Regions from separate parts of the Homo sapiens genome. Here region 1 is linked to region 2. The links come from fine-mapping of genetic effects on gene expression. A gene starts in region 2. The other region holds a variant in brackets. All regions are shown on one strand. Distances are from middle to middle.

Region 1 (2,909 bases), 56 kb after region 2:
TTAGCCAGGTGTGGTGGTGGGCACCTGTAATCCCAGCTACTCAGGAGGCTGAGGTGGAAGAATCATTTGAACCCAGGAGGCAGAGGTTACAGTGAGCCGAGATTGCACCACTGCACTTCAGCCCCATCTCAAAAAAAAAAAAAAAAGTATTGATTCTTGCATTTTTCTCAATTTAGGACTAAGAGAGGCTTAATTAATTATTATGAAGAGTTTTCATACAGTTTTCTTTCTATCTCTGTTAAAGCCCGTTTCAAAAATTACCACTCTACCACAGTGTGTGTCATGAGTCTACTTTTTCTAGTGCATACTCCCTTCCTCTTACCCAATGCTTTCCCCCAAAACTCAACTATTCTATGTATGGCCAACCCTCTTCTGTGATGATAAGAACCAAATGAAAAGCAATAGATGCTAATTCTATAGCTATTGAAGGTACCCTAGGGAGCCAAAGAGCTAACTCACAAATTGGAAATCATATAACATGGCTGCTCTACCAGCAGTATCTGCCCTTATTGGCCTGAAAACTAGAGATGGTCATGAGGAACACAAATTGAGGCAAACTCACTACCAATGTGAACATCTTCCCTGTGATTCTTTCCATGTCATGAATCTCCATCTGATTTTTAAGGCTGGGTTGGGAGGATGAGACTGACTCTATGTTCTAGGCTTTTGGAATAGAAATAGCCTCATGTTCAATAAGCTTTCTGCTCTTCAGTAAATTATGTTGCCATCAGATTTGACATAATTACATATATACATTTCAAATCCTACTTTGTGTAGCTTCCTGTGACATCTGATAGAGGGGAATTTGTGGCTTAGCTGCTTATAAGTGAAGAAGATGACAGTGGAAACCTGTTGGGAGAGCACTTGGTGTTTGTACCTGCATTCACTTTGCATGCACATCTACTACCAGGGATCCAGGAGGGAAATGGAGTGCTACCCCTAAGCTTTCAGATGGTACTTGCTGACTTGTAAGCAAGGACCATTACAGCATAAGTTTGGTTGAGCCAACTTTTCTTTTTCAAATTAACTTGAAATGAGGCAAACAGGGACTTCTGTTTGGCTATGTTTTGCAAAAATCACTGTTAACACACAGGTGGGCTACTAAGGGCTGTTATTTTTTCAAGTTATTAAAAGGAAAATTCAGAAAGTTAGGGAGAAGAATTATTTTATACTTCTGCTTGAGAAGAACAACATATGTTTGTCATGGATGATTGAATCCATTTCCAAGATTTTAAACTTTAAAGTGGACGTGGCACTATGACATTAGGAATGAGGTTACCAGATAATTTTTAAGTTAATTCTCGAAATTAAACTACTTGGAAAATCTGTTCTTCCCATCTCAGTGCACGTTCTGCTCGTTATGTGGTGTGCCGTCTAAGTAAACTCTGGGCCAGGTGCAGTGGCTCACGCCTGTAATCCCAGCAATTTGAGAGGCCGAGGAGGGCAGATCACGAGGTCAGGAGATCAAGACCATCCTGGCTAACATGGTGAAACCCCGTCTCTATCAAAAATAAAAAAAATTAGGCGGGCCTTGTGGTGGGCGCCTGTAGTCCCAGCTACTCAGGAGGCTGAGGCAGGAGAATGGAGTGAACCTGGGAGGTGGAGGTTGCAGTGAGTCGAGATCATGCCACTGCACTCCAGCCTGG[GC/C]GACAGAGCAAGACTCCATCTCAAAAAAAAGAAGAAGAAGAAGAAGTAAACTCTGGCCACAGAGCAAGTCCACCATAGGTAGTGATATGCAGGCTGTCAGATGAAATCTCCAGATTGAAACCAGAACAGGGGGCTGAGCTCCAAACTGGAGAAGAAGCATGTGTAACCTTTTGGTTCACATGGAGGGAGTGTCTCCAAACAGTCCCTTTTGCCAAAAGACTCAGCTTTCCTTAAATATAAAGAAAAACAAAAGTCTTTTTTTCTCAAGGATGTAAGAATGATGTTTGCAATTTGCTCACTTCTTCCTACAAGTTCTAAATTTGGGGACTGCATTGCTTTTAGTTTTAAGGAGGTTATATAAATCTAGATGACAAAGGCACGGAAAGACTTATCTTGGTGCTTTAGTGGTGATAAAAGAAGCTTATTTCTTCATTTAGCAAATGTTTACTGAATATCTACTATGTATCAATCACTGTTTCATGTGTTGGTCATAAAGAAGTGAGCAAGATCAAGATTTCTCTCTTTTCTAATAATAATCTGTGGGAGGAAGAACCCACAAAGCAAATGAGAATTTTATATGTTGATAAATGGTATGGAGAGATTAGGACAAGTTAAGGATATAGAGAGTGGGTGGTAAACAAATATATTAGATGGAGAAGTATTCTTGACAGGACAACCTAAAAAGCAAAAAAAAAAAAAAAACCAAAAATGAAGAAAATTTAGGGAATGAGGACTTCCTGGAGAGAAAATAGTAAATGCAAAGGCCCTGGAGCAGTAATGAATGTGGAGAGTATGAGAAACAGAAGACCAGTGCAACCTGAGTATGATGACTGAAACAGACAACAGTGGTATGAGAGTTAGGCAGGATCCAGACCATATGGAGGCTTGGAGGCCATGAAAAGATGGGTGATTTTATTTGGAGAGCAAGGAGAAGTCACTGGAGGGCTTAGAAGCAAGAAAATGATGTAATCTGAGTTATGCTTTCCAGAAGATCGCTCTTTCAAATGTTCATCCTCATTTGCAAGGCTCTGCTCTAAATTGAGGAGCCAGTCCTTCTTCTGGCATCTTACCAATTTGTTATTTTACGAACTTTCTTTTCTTGTAAAATAAGCATATTTAGGAAAACTACACAGCATAGTACAAAGGATTGGACAGCTATATCATTTTTAGATGGACTCATTTTTGAAATGTGAGACAATGTTTTACACGGAAATAACACTCAAAGGCTGAGTTCTAGTCTTACTTGGGCCACGGATTCACTG
Region 2 (2,909 bases):
AGCCACGACAACTTGTACTGAAGTGGATTAAATCAACTTGTACCCGTCTTCACCTGTTACTAAAATTTTAAATGTGGATTTTGAACAAACAAGTGTATAAGTCTTAAGCACTAGATGAAAATAAAATAGAATCTATTGAAAGTTGAACTGAACTCCCCCCACCACACACACACACACACACACACACACACACACACACACACACACAAAATAACTATGTCAAGGAACATTTCTGCTCTTTTCTCCCAGGGATATGCAGTCAATTTCTGGAGATGAGGAAGATGTCATTTTCTATCTACCAGAAGTATCCATACTGCATGGAAATCTAATGACAATTCCCAACCTCAGTTAAGGACTTGTTTTTCCATTTTTCTGAACTTCAAATACTTTCTAAATTGTGTTAGCCGAAGCATTGTATGTATATAATTAACTCATAGGTCCCTCTGGGCCCATCTAGCTAAACTTGTGGAGCTTAACTGAGCAAAACATTTGCTGATGTCTCTCCCTACAGTGGTACCCATTGAAATGAATACCTTCTACAAGATGAAACCTAGGAAATGTCGTTTCCAATTGGCTTTCTACTGATTGGGGTTGATGTCTTTTCCAAATTGGCTTTCTAGTGATTTGGGTTGCTTCATTAAATGTTTTTGGTTGTTTCATAACAATAGTAATCTCATTTTCTTTCAAAAGTAGAGTTTGAAATTTGGGAAAACATGGGTGGGGAGGGAATTCTACATTTTCTTCCTAGTTGAAGTAGGAAGACAGGTCTCTTTTCTGTATTAATTGGACTCCTGAAATTCCCCCAGGGTAGCAGTGGCTCTCTGTGGGCACAGGGCTCTTATGCTTATGTTTCTGTGCTTCAATGTACCTTCCATGCTGACAGCAAATAGAAGGTGTTCCTGCACAAGCAAAACCTAACGGAGAGGCTGCAATAATTTGTCCAAAACGAAGTGCAAACTGCAAGGGAGAGTGGACTTTTTCAGACTGATCCTGTTTACTAGTCTGGTGCTTTCCTCCACCTGTGTAGACACAGATGCTTTATTGAACACCAGCCTCCTACAGTTAGAAGGTATTTTGACTCTTAGGAATGGGGGAACCAGTTGCAAAGTTCTGGCCCCTGATCCCCCTCCTATTCCTACTAGAGGGCTTAAGATAGGCTCTGAGCGGCACTTCCCACTTTCTCCTCTTTTTCTGAAGCTTCGAGCCCCAAACCTCGCCCTTTAAATTCACCAAGGGACCACATGCATCATATAAGGGTGAGGAAAAGGGACCTGGATGTAGACTTCCTGACTATCCAAAGGAACCTACTTCTCTTTGCTGTTCTCAAGTTCAGGCGTCCGGAGAAAGGCAGGGAGCTAGGGGCTCTGGGTGCTAGCGTAGACGTGGCCCTTAGCTGAGTGGCGCGAGAGGGGAGGAGGTTGGAAGAGCGCGTCTATGCGTTCCACCTGAACCTGCAAGCTAGTCGCTTGCTGCCCAGGTGCCGATTCGCGGCTGCATGCGCCCCACTGCAGCAAAGAGCAGCCGCAGCCTCTGCCTCGGCCACCACTGCTGCTGGGAAAGAGTCGTGGGGCTGCTGACGCGGTTGGGAGGAGCCTCGCCTTTAATGCACCAGCCGCCTCCAGCCTCCTGCAGCAGCAGCAGCAGCAGCAGCAGCAGCAGCTGCGAGTGCGCGCGTGTGGGTGTGAGGGTGAGTGCGCTGGCGCCGGCTGCAGCGCCCTGCCCAGCTCCCCGCCAGCTTCCCTACCCCCGCCTGCCGGAGCCGCCCTCCCGTGGGACCAGCACCCTCATTCCGGCCAGGCAAGCCTGAATCCTGTCCCTGCCATCTCGCCACTGCAGCTCGGGTCCAGAAAGGCACCATTTTGTCGCGGCTGCCCGCTCTCCCAGGGGGAGGAGGGATCTTTTTTGCATTTTGGAGCGGCTGCCAAGGAGGGGAACCTGTTGGGCATCTCCCCAGACCCGCTTGTGAGCGCCTCCGGGGCGGGCGGGCGGGACCAGACCCCTCGGGGCACGGCGTATCTTGGCACCCGGAGGCAGCGGAGGCAGGCGCAGCATCCTCGCTGGGAACTGGAGCTGGAGTGAGCGCACCGCGCGGGAGGAGCCGCCGCAGCCTCGCAGAACCCGAGTGGAGGAGGTGACAGCTCCATTGCCGGGTTTTTATTTTTTTTCTCTCCGCCTCCCCGTCTCCTCCTCAGGCTCGGACCATGGTGCAGTCCCACTGGCTCCCCTGCCCCCCTCTCCTGTGAGACTGGCTGCGGGGAGGGATCATGGATACTTGTCTGCCGGCTTCTGGTTCCCACGCAAGTAAGCCTGCTGTCAATGGAGGAGGACATTGATACCCGCAAAATCAACAACAGTTTCCTGCGCGACCACAGCTATGCGACCGAAGGTAACGCCAGCCCCGCCGCATTCCGCCGTTGGGGCCGGGCGCAAGTTGCGGATCACTGTGCTTCCTGGGCAGCTGGGCGCGTAGTGGCGGAGACTCCTCCGGGCCCTAGGGCTGGGGCGGGGGCTCGGCTGGCCCCGGCAGCCCCAGTGCACCTCGCATCCATCCGGGCTCCGCGAGGCGAGCTCGGCGTTCAGCAGCAGGTGGACCCGGCGCCCACGGGAGTTAAAATGGCCCTCAGGGATTAGGCTTTTTCAGGGTGGGGCTCTCGCCCAGAAAGATGACCCCAGGAAGGCAGATGACCCCTTCCCCGAGATGTTCGCAGGGGTCTTGGGGGGAGATAAGAAGGGAGGGGCCCAGTAGGACCTTGGTCCCCCCTCCCTGAGCGAAACGATGTTATGTCTCTCAGTGGCTGCAGGGAGGGCAAGGTTTCATTTCCTGCCCATTCATCTCCCCGGCCGGCCAGGTTACCTGCTTAGACAATCAAAACCCCAAAAAGCCCTTTGCAGACGGGCGAACCTCTTTC

The links. PIP is the estimated chance that this variant, and not a neighbour inherited with it, causes the effect.
Region 1: its variant is fine-mapped to the expression of PPP2R2B in blood mononuclear cells (TOPMed, PIP above 0.99).

Annotation. Positions count from the first base shown.
Region 1 is chr5:146,821,976-146,824,884 of GRCh38, reverse strand. The region is part of intron 2 of PPP2R2B (protein phosphatase 2 regulatory subunit Bbeta); the gene reads left to right. Among named protein-coding and RNA genes, the nearest start is that of PPP2R2B, 55 kb to the left of the region's middle. The variant GC/C (reference allele first, on the strand shown) is at 1,647.
Region 2 is chr5:146,877,479-146,880,387 of GRCh38, reverse strand. It overlaps PPP2R2B (protein phosphatase 2 regulatory subunit Bbeta), which reads left to right and starts at 1,631. Exons shown (of 10, transcript NM_181675.4): 1 at 1,631-1,797; 2 at 2,193-2,386. The coding sequence starts at 2,317.